Regions from separate parts of the Homo sapiens genome. Here region 1 is linked to region 2. Evidence: fine-mapped expression QTL. A gene starts in region 2. The other region holds a variant in brackets. All regions are shown on one strand. Distances are between the middles of the regions.

Region 1 (5,380 bases), 300 kb after region 2:
ATTACCGCAGCTCTTTAAATGTGCTCTCCCCAGTCATCAGATGCATTTGTGTCATTCACATGCACGGGGTTGCTGGCCTGTGGCTCTGGCCTGCCGGGAGGCAGCCGACACTGGTTGGGGCCATTGTTGTTTATTCCCAGACTCAGATCATTAGAACTTTCAAATTGTCTTTCTGTTGCAGCCCCCCTCTCTTTTTCCACCCCTTTTGGGCATTTTAATTCTCTATAAAACCTGTGGTTGTTCTTTAAAGGACAACTTATGTAATTCAGAAAAGGTTGTGGAGAGCAAATGCGAATGTATAGCCAAGAAACAAAAATCTGGAGTCTGAGTTTTCGTTTTCCGGGTGTTTTGTAGACTTCCCGTGTTGCTGTTGTTGGAGGTTTGCTTTCTGTGAGTGGCGCGCTCTCCCCTCCGTGTTTCCTTCCTGACCGGTTCCTATCGGGAGGTGCTGGGCAGCCTTGCTGCTCCCAGGCCCTTTGGCACAGGCCAGCATCTTATGGGGGCGGAGGCCTCACCTCAGGATCAGCTGATGTCTGAGGCCTGCAAATTTCTATGTGGGAGTAGTGATGTAGTGGCAGGGGGAGTGGGCAGAAGTGAGCCTCTCCTCAGGTGCGGGCTGGGGGTTCTGGCTACCTGGGTTTGCGTGTCTACAACTCTGATTACCTGCTGTGTAACCTTGGGTAAGTGACTTAACCTCCCAGTTTCCTCAGCCATCAAATGGGGATTGGGGGTGGGGGGGGCGCGGGGAAAGCAGCCTCTCCAGACACCTTACCAGGTTCCTGAACACAGCGTCATCCCCCACGTGATCACTCTCTTCACCCAAAAGATCAGACCTGAGCATCACAGCCCCACTGCTCCTTTAAAAGAACAACATGTAGGGCCGGGCGCAGTGGCTCACGCCTGGAATCCCAGCACTTTGGGAGGCCAAGGCAGGAGAATCACTTGAACCCGGGAGGCGGAGGTTGCGGTGAGCCGAGATCGCGCCACTGCACTCCAGACTGGGCAACAAGAGCAAACCTCTGTCTCAAAAAAAAAAAAAGAAAGAAAAAAAACAACATGTAGAAGTAGCAGGCTCTGGGAAGGGAAAGGAGAGGGGTCTTTTCTCTGGCTGGTAGCATCCTGCTCAGAAGGGAAAGGCCAGGGATGAATGGGTTAAAGGAGCAGGAGTGCCGCATACCCTGAGTTCACACAGTGTGGACAAAGAAGAGCAAAGAAATCTTGGCCATGGACAGACAGGTGCCCTCGGGGCCGCTCACCTCTCGCCTCTTTCAGCAAAGGAAATTTTGTTTAGCAGAGGGACTTGGGCTGGAGGGACTAGAAAATGCTTACTAGGCCCAGCTGATCTGGGGAGTTGGGGCTGGAAGGCACCAGAGGCCATAGCTCCCTTTGAGACTAGGTGTTTCCTGCCACGTCCAGACTTCGCAAGCAGTTGCATGCATGTGCTCGCAGCGCCGGTGAAAGTGGCGTCTGCGAGTAGAGCTCACCTTGTCTGCTGCACATGAGGGTGCACCTGCAGTTCACATCAGTAGAGGGTGGCCCTGTCCCCCAGTGCACTGAGTCAGCTAGGTGCTGAGAGGCGGACAGACAGGGGAAAGGAAGAAAAGCTTTCACAGAGGAATGGTCGGCGGGGGCTGCATCTGACTGGCCCCAGGGGTAGACCAGAGATAAGATGGTGGAGATACAAATGGAATCAGCATCCCCTTCTCTGGTGGAATACTGAATGTTCTTTAAAGAAACTACCTGAGACTTCTAATCTCTCTCTCTCTCTTTTTAGATAAATTGAAGAAGCAATTTTTTACCCCCAAAGTTCTGCAGGACTACAGAAAACTCAAGAACACAGCAGAGCAATTCTTGTCCCGAAGTGGCTACTCCGAAGTGAATCTGAGCAAACTCTTCGCTGGTTGTGCCGTGAAATCCTAAGGGAATCCCAGGAGTAACCAAGGAGGGGGTAGTTGAAAAATCCCAGCTTCCTCTGTGCCTCCACTCTGGCCCTAAATGCTCCTCCAGCATCTGTTTCTCCCTTGGGACTGTGTCTCATGTTTGTGTGAATGTAGACCAGGAAAGGGGGCTGCAAAAATGTTGAGTCTAATGTTCGTAAGCATCATAGAAATTCCTGTCTTCATATTAAGATGTACTGCTTTAAAACACAACTCCAGAGCCCCTCCCCAAGCTCCCCTCCCCAAGCTCCTGAAGACCCGGTTTCTGAGGGAGGGAAATTGCTACTTGGATTGAGAGTAGCTGGAATGTAAGTGACCCCAGGCTTTGCCTCAGGGCCTTTAGCCTATGTCCCCCCCACATAAAGAGAGCTTCTCAGAGCCTGACTGAAGAGCTGACGTTTTGCTTTTTCATATGCCAATTAAACCCGGTCTAAATCCAAATGCTTCTCCAGCCATCCAGGAGTGGCTGTCCTTTTCAGTCTTGTCTTTTATATAGGTAGCTGAGGGGGAAGATTTAGAAGCCTTGCACTCACTAAATAGATTAAACAGAGCAGGCTTGTTTGTTGAATTGCTCCAAAGTCCAACAGACACACACTGAGCAGGTGTTTTACACTCACATTCCCTTTTTGCCCCTTAAATAGAAAGTGCAGGTAAAGGTTTATACAACAAGAAAGCACATTGAAAATAATTTGATACTCT[A/G]ACAATCCATTAACATGTGTAGGGGTTACGGTGAGGATCACTGTGTTGTATTCAGAAAAACGGGGAGAGGGATGCTTAATTGGCCCTGGCGCTTGCTATTTTTTTCTCATTTCTTCACAATAGGACCGTCTTTGGCAGCAGCAAAATGTATTTCAGTATGGCAGTCTTTCCTCTCTTACATTATTGGTAAGATTATACTAACAAAATGTTTCCCCTTGTACAATTATGCTGTGTTTTTAAAAAACATTGACCTGTGTGTTTTTATAAAAGAAAAAGTATGTTGTGCCTTCTTCTTAAGAATAAAGTTTTCTAAAGGGAAAGCAGTTGTGGTGAATCCTTACCAGGTGCAAAGAGTTGACTAGAGAGGCAGCAAGGAGTAAAATGTGAGTAGAGCCAGTTGCTGTGGCACACACCTGTAGTCCTGGCTACTCGGGAGGTGGAGGCAGGAGGATGGCTTGAGCCCAGGAGTTCAAAGCAGACTGGGCAACATAGTGAGGCCCCCACCTCTAAATACATACACACGTACATACATATACATATACATATACATATACATATACATATACATACACACACACATATATATATATACACACACATATATATACACATATATATATATATGACTAGAGGCCATCCCCTTTTCAAACCTCAGCCCAGTTTCTTCATAGCCACCTCTATCAGAACCCAGCTCAGGAGTGCACAGCATGATATTTGGTCGAATGTTCTGAGAAGCATTCAGAATTTCTGTGACTTTAGGTCATTTAAGAGATGAAGTATGGTTTCTTACGTGCTTTGCTGACTTAGAGAGCCAAGCCAAGAGCCCAGCAGCATCTCTTTTTGAAGAGCAAGGCCTAGGGCTCCTGAGACAAAGGCGCCCCCTAAAAAAGGTCCCCCTAGTGAAGGAATACTGATGGGTTAAGCAGTGGAGATGAAGCTGCCTTTTATGTTGCTTTTTCTTTTTATTTCTCCTCCTCACCTCCCCTCTGGCTCCCATCCCTCTCCTTTCTCCTCCTGCTCTTAGACTGAGATTCTAAGTAGAAACACTGTGGGTTTCGAGCCCTGTCAGTTAATTAACTAACTTGCTACTGTGTAAGCTCTGCAGCCTGTCACAAACTGGAGCACCCAAGGTGCTTCAGGAACTAAGGGATTAATGTGTTTTTATTGCTCCCCTGGTCAACTCTTTCAGTAATTGCTATTCTCACATAAGGTTAGAGAGATGGTTTTCTAAAGTGTGCTTTCTGAAGGGGAGTCATGTTTTCCTTGATTTCTGGGATCTGGGATTATATTAAATATAAATAGTTACCCTGAACTTGGTCATCAGGAAACTCCAAGAGACTCAAGTAACTTCTCACTGGATTGTTTCTTGTCCCTGCCTCTAGATTATAAACACCCTGGGGGCAAGGACCATTTCTCTAGAATGTGAGGCATTTCTAAGTACTGTCCCCGAAAAAAGCTAATGCAGCAGTTGATGTTTTCTTATTGGGATCTGTTAGAACTCTAGGCACCTAAGGATTCCAGAATTTTGTGGAAAGTTGAAACTGCAACTTTAAGAATTCCAGTGAATCTCTGTTAGAAGTTGGGAGTATCACATACTTATTTTTCTCTGAGAGATGTTTCTACTCCTTGATTTGTGTGGTTGATAGTGCACCCAGCAGAACTGATGCGGAAACTTTGCCCATCTTATTTGTAAGGGGAGAGGTGACCTGCAGGTCTCCATGGACTCCGGCACGTGTCCTAAACTCAAATTCTAAAAGTGAATGGATGAAGCAAACCAGGTTCACACTAGAGTGAGTGGCAGGGACTGTGGCAAACAGGAGTGAGCAGGTCCTGTCCAAAGGGGCCAGCAGCTACTCAGTGATGCTGGGAGGGACAGGGCCCAGTATGGCCACATGATCGAGTTTTCAAGAGAAGCCAGGAATCCAAATATTCCACAAAGCTTACTGATTTCTAAACCTTGACAACTAATTTTTTAAAATGAAACTTTAAACTCTGTGTGGGCCAGAGTAAACCTCTGGGCCAAAGTTTATCTGGGCCAGTTGGGAAATTATACCCTAAAAGAACCCTGCTCTTCTCAGAGCCCCCTGCCTCTGGAAAGGGCACTTTTTCTGTTTAATTTAGGAACTAGGATTTTACCTGTAGCAGATACTTGTACACAAGCTTATCTTGGACACAATCTGCTAACCCTCCACTCTTCTACATATAAGGTGCATAGAGGGGGGCCAGAAGTGGAAAATCCCACAGAGTATGCTTGATAAGATTTTAATTTGTCCAGAAAACAGATGGAGTTAATCTTGTGACTGTTGCCCAGGATGTGGGGGTTAATCAAAGTTCCAAGACTGGAATTTGGGAGAAGTTGAAAGGGAATGAATTCACTGCCCCTCACCATCACCCCTTTCTCCAGCCCTTACTACCTCTTACCTCCAACACACACACCATGCTCCTCAATATACTTCTTCAAACATCATTTAAAATTAGTTTGGCGGAAGATGCAACAGTAAGGAAACTCCAAAAACAGATTTTCCTGTTTGTTTTAGGGTTTTAAGAAAAACACCAAGCCCCAGACCCTCTTGTCAGGATGCCCGACCCTTTAATTCGATGCTCCCATCCCAAATTTAAAGCTGCCATTCCCTGCTCCTCACTGTCTCTCTCCCGCCCCCTCTTTCTTCTCTCTCTCTGTCTCTCTCTCTCTTTCTCACCCCCTCTCACCTAAATATTTCTTAATTGAACAGTTTGTGGTGGAG
Region 2 (5,380 bases):
CCCACTTACGAGTAACACACAATGTTTGGCTTTCCATTCCTGAGTTACTTCACTTAGAATAATGGTCTCCAATTCCATCCAGGTTGCTGCGAATGTCTTTATTTCATTCCTTTTTACTGCTGAGTAGTATTCCATGGTGTGTGTGTGTGTGTGTGTGTGTGTGTGTGTGTGTGTGAGATATATACACACACACATATGTATATATACACATATCTCACTTTTTTTAACCTACTTGTTGATTAATGGGCATTTGGGCTGGTTCCATATATTTGCAATTATAAATTGTGCTGCTGTAAACATGCGCGTGCAAGTATCTATCATGTATAATGACTTCTTTTCCTCTGGGTAGATACCCAGGAGTGGGATTGCTGGATCAAATGGTAGATCTACAAAAGTAAGATATTTTAGCTGCAATCAGATATGACTACTTTCCACTTGGTGGTTTGCTGGTAAACCTTAAAAAAATAAAAAGCTCTGATTTGTACCACTTGCCAATTTCCAGGGTGTAAATATTCCCACCATGACTGATTTCAAGCTACCAACAGTTTAACATGGAGATTACAAAATACTGGAATATTTAACAATCAGCTCTTGAGAACCTCCAACTGTCCCTCTGATACACTTCGCTTCTTGCATAGTAGCAGTGAAATAGGCATAGGCATTTTGGGATTCCACTATGGGGAAATGGAGTTGATATTGCATTTAGTTTGGGCTTATTTCTTCTATTTATGTGGGTCGAAGGCACTTAACCCACATATATACTTAAGCCATATATACTTAAGTTATTGATAGACTTTTTTTTTTTTTTGAGACAGAGTCTCACTCTGTCACCCAGGCTGGAGTGCACTGGCACAATCTCGGCTCACTGCAACCTCTGCCTCCCGGGTTCAAGCTATTCTTCTGCCTCAGCCTCCCAAGTAGCTGGGACTACAGGCGCCTGTCACCACACCCGGCTAATTTTTGTATTTTTGGTAGAGATGGGGTTTCATCATATTGGTCAGGTTGGTCTTGAACTCCTGACCTCATGATCTGTCAGCTTCGGCCTGCCAAAGTGCTGGGATTACTGGCGTGAGCCACAGCGCCGGGCTGTTATTCATAGACTTCTTGGTGTAGGAATAGCTTCCAGGAATATTTCTACCCCAGTGTGATGACTTACCAGGAGTTTTGAACTGAAAGTGTAGGGCCAGAAGACATATCATGGTATGAAAGTGTCTGGCCTGGCATGGTGGCTCACACCTGTAATCCCAGCACTTTGGGAGGCTGAGATGAGTGGATCACCTGAGGTCAGGAGTTCAAGACCAGCCTGGACAACATGGTGAAACCCCATCTCTACTAAAAATACAAAAATTAGCCAGGTGTGGTGGCGGGCGCCTGTAATCCCAGCTACTCGGGAGGCTGAGGCAGTAGAGTCGCTTGAACCTGGGAGGTGGAGGTTGCAGTGAGCCGAGATGGTGCCACTGCATTCCAGCCTGGATGACAGAGCGAGACTCCATCTCAAAAAGAGAAAGTGTCCTACAGGTCTTTTCCCACAAAGTATGTGGGTCATTGTCTCAGTCTGTTCAGGCTGCTATAACAAAATACCACAAACTGGGTGGCTAATAAACAACAGGAATTTATTTTTCACAGTGCTGTAGGCTGGGAATTCCAAGATCAAGGTGCCGGCAGATTCAGTGTTTGGGGTAGGCCCACTTTTTGGTCCATAGATGGTGCCTTATTGCTCTGTTCTCACATGGAAGAAGGGGCAAGGCAGCTCTCTGGAGCCTCTTTTCCGAGGGCACTAATCCTATTCATGAGGGAGGGTTCCTGCTGATGACCTAATCACCTCCCAGAGGCCCTACCTCCTAACACCACCACACTGGTGATTAGGTTTCAACGCATACATTTTATGTGGAGAGAAACATTCAGACCACAGCAGTAGTGAAAGAGAAAAGAGGTTTGAAATGCCTAGAGTTATACCCGGGCATGTGGGAAGTAATCAGCTGTGAAATTGTTAAGGTAAGGATTTGGTTCTTATTAATGACTAGCCAACATGGTTCTCTCCTGGTTGGAAAAAGCTTGATAATAAAACTATAAAACTTCCATCAGTTTTTAAAAGGGAAGTGTAGGAATAAATCTGTCGTAGTACTTTAAATAGGAAGTTATGTCTAAGTGTAAATTACTACATGTTATGTATCACAACATATGGATCACATAACATGATATTAAATGATTATGAAGCTGAAAGACATTTTCTAAACAATCAGAAATTAAGAAACAAGTATTGATCAACCATGCTAGAAGACAGATTGAATTATCTTTATATCCTCTTTGGAGAAAATATTACAAAATTGTTGTCACATGAAGAAGGGATCAATAAGCATGTGGGCAATAATGTAGGAAAAAATACAAATGTGTGGCAGGCATTATTTAATAAAAATGTTATACCTTTTTGGAAAGAGATAACATGAGATGTACACATTACAGCCATTGTATCATACACAAAAATTGAATACCCTTTTTGTTTTTCATAACATTGAAATTTTGGAGTTCACGTCAGGTGTTTTGTAGATTGTCCTACATTTTGAATACATCTGATTGTTTCTTCATGGTTAGATTCAGGTTAGACATTTTTTGCAAGAAGACCATATAGGCGAAGTTTTTCCTTTTTCATACGCATTACATCAGGAGGCATATGAGATCAGATGGCCATTTATTGGTAATGCTACTTCTGGTTATTTGGTTAAGACGGAGCATATATCTTTAAGTTGTTAATCACACAGCCACTGTATCCAGACTGCTGAGAAGCAAACTATCAGGCAAAATTCAGGGCGCGCAGCAGGAGGCAGTCGCTTTCCCGGCTCTGGGGAAAACGATCCAACCACGCCCACTCTCCTGCCCGCCCGCGCCTCCTTTCCGGGAAAATGGGCTCTGAGAACCAGAGCGCCCTTTCTCCCACGCGCCCAAATCTTTTCCCATCAGCATGCGTGCGCTTGCGCAGTCTCCAGGCGGCTCCTTTCCAGCGCCCGACCGCTTCTTTCTCCTGCTCTCCTCCGGCTTCCCCTCAGCTCTAGCTTTTCCCTAAGGGGTCATCACAGGGCGCCAAACGCGCGTCCGCGGGAAGGCCGGGGGCGGAGCGCGGCGCGGCGCGGCACGTCAGTGGCCTTCCGGCCGGAAGTCCGCAGCCTCCCGAGCCGCTGATTGGCTTTCAGGCTGGCGCCTGTCTCGGCCCCCGCGCCAGTTTTGGGCTGGTTGGCGCGGAATCGGGAGATTCGGGACCATGGCACCTGTGCACGGCGACGACTGTGAGATAGGGGCGAGTGGTGAGGGACAATTCCGCGCGCGGGGCTCCGGGTTGGGACAGTGGCATGATTGCCGGTGGTGGGGGTTCTGAGGGAGGCGCACACCCGGGTTTGTTTGGGCGCAGACCTTGGTCGTCCCCGGCGGGGGCCCTTCTGGCGTCGGACCGGGCTTCCTTTAGGCGCGGTTTGCTCTTGGAGGACCAGAGCCTGGAGGGATTTTTGTTTGGGAGGCTGTCTCACCTCTGCCACTGAGAGTCTCCACAGTCGATTGCGTTTCTATTTCTTTTGGTGAGTTGCACCCACGTGCTGGGTATAACTTTATTGAGACTGGCCCCGTGGGGCCGAAAGTATTTCACTGCGATCTCCCTAAGTATCCACTTGAAGGCTTGAACAGAACAGATCTGTGTCCCTTTTTGTAGGAACTTCCAGGAAAATTTTATACATTGTAACTAAGCAGGAAAGAAAGCTCTAAGTGCTGTCATCGGGGAATAACGCGTTTTGTATTTTTAGGTAATGGGTTTCTACTTTATGCATTAACAATTTTTCTTTCAGATTCTTTGGAAAGTTCTTCAAGTGCTGCGTAGAAATCCTGTTCACAATCTAGTCATTCCTGGTGAAGTTTCAAAAAAATGGCATCAATTTAGGGCATTTCGGATCCCCTGTATATCACTCCGTTTGTCAGGGGTGTCTTTTATTTCCAAAAATAGAATACAAAAATGCAAATAGATTTGTCTGATTTTTTAAGTGTTCAACTAAAGCGTGACTTCAGTTAACTTCTAACTTAAAATCAGATGCTTCACTTTGTTAGCTCAAGCGTCACCTCTCCTGTCATTCAGATACATCACCATTAATGAGAACTCGCTTCCTAATCAGCTTCCTTTGCATTCACCTAGTTGTGAGTCACAGATTTCAATTTGTTCTAGCCGTTCGTTTTTTAAGACTATTTTGGAGAGTCGACCTGCCTGGATTACAGATAGGATGTTGGGTGTAAGTATGTGAACGAACAGTCTTTGCAGGCCTCTATCAGTGATTTGCCACTAAGCCCTTTCTTCATCCTAAAAACTACGTCATCTATGAACATCAGGAAATCACTTTGGAGGATACTGTGCAATCTTGAGACTCCTCTTAGGTCATGGTGTTCATTAAGTAGTTGCTGGGGACTTGTGACTGGAATTTTTCCTTTAGAGCAGACTGAAGGATTGTTACCTGAAAGACTGCTGTAAGCTAGTGTCTGTCTGCTTTTGGGGAGGATAGAGATACTCCAGATGGTAATTTTGAAACAAATATTTAAACCTTTGTAGCTGGATTTTTTTCATGCTTATTCTTTTTTTGCTAAGTTACCTACGTGAAGCATTGGAGACATACTCCAAAAAACAAAATGTAGGCTTTTTTTTTTCTTCAGTATTAGCAGGCAGGGCACCTTGATAATGGCAGTGAAAAGTTGAAAGGTCTGTAACTAGCTGTTACTATATATGAAAAAAGATCAGGGAATTTTTATTTATTTATTTATTTTTGAGACAAAGCTTCCCTCTTGTTGCCCAGACTGGAGTGCAGTGACGTGATCTCAGCTGGCTGCAACCTCTGCCTCCTGGGTTCAAGCAGTTCTGCCTCAGCCTCCCGAGTTGCTGGGATTACAGGTGCCCACCACCACACCGGCTAATTTTTTGTATTTTCAGTAGAGACAGGGTTTCACCATGTTGGCCAGGCTGGTCTTGAACTCCTGATGTCAGGTGATCCACCTGTCTCTTCCTCCCAAAGTGATGAGATTACAGGCATGAGCCACTGCGCCCGGCCAGGGAAAGTTTAATGATCAAAAAAGCAGGTACAGTGGTTCATTCATTGGTTCATTCAGCAAATATTTATTATATACCTACTAGGTATAAGCCTTCTGCCAGGCTCTGGCATTATGATGGTGGGTAGGCTGGACATGGTTTGTCTTCATGAAGTACAGATGGTAAACATCTAATCATATGCAGAAAACGGCTTTGCTTTGTTTTTGCCTTCTAAAGCTAGACCTTGGTACTCTTAGGTATGGTGTGTGTGGGGTATGTGGATGTGTGTTTGACTTCACACGCGGAAGCGTTACATGAGCCGCTCCTATA

Which allele goes with the higher level. Positions count from the first base shown, and alleles are read on the strand shown. Sizes are in standard deviations (SD) of each study's normalised expression.
As copies of A replace G in region 1, the expression in substantia nigra of the gene that starts at base 3,213 in region 2 goes up (moderate effect, 0.55 SD a copy in GTEx).

The links. PIP is the estimated chance that this variant, and not a neighbour inherited with it, causes the effect.
Region 1: its variant is fine-mapped to the expression of POLA1 in substantia nigra (GTEx, PIP above 0.99).

Annotation. Positions count from the first base shown.
Region 1 is chrX:24,994,031-24,999,410 of GRCh38, forward strand. It overlaps POLA1 (DNA polymerase alpha 1, catalytic subunit), which reads left to right. Exons shown (of 37, transcript NM_001330360.2): 37 at 1,775-2,956. The coding sequence ends at 1,920. Among named protein-coding and RNA genes, the nearest start is that of ARX, 19 kb to the right of the region's middle. RefSeq lists enhancers at 4,920-5,380, 5,025-5,380. The variant A/G (reference allele first, on the strand shown) is at 2,637.
Region 2 is chrX:24,690,706-24,696,085 of GRCh38, forward strand. It overlaps POLA1 (DNA polymerase alpha 1, catalytic subunit), which reads left to right and starts at 3,213. Exons shown (of 37, transcript NM_001330360.2): 1 at 3,213-3,299. The coding sequence starts at 3,257. RefSeq lists enhancers at 1,182-1,682, 3,385-3,474 and a silencer at 3,035-3,194.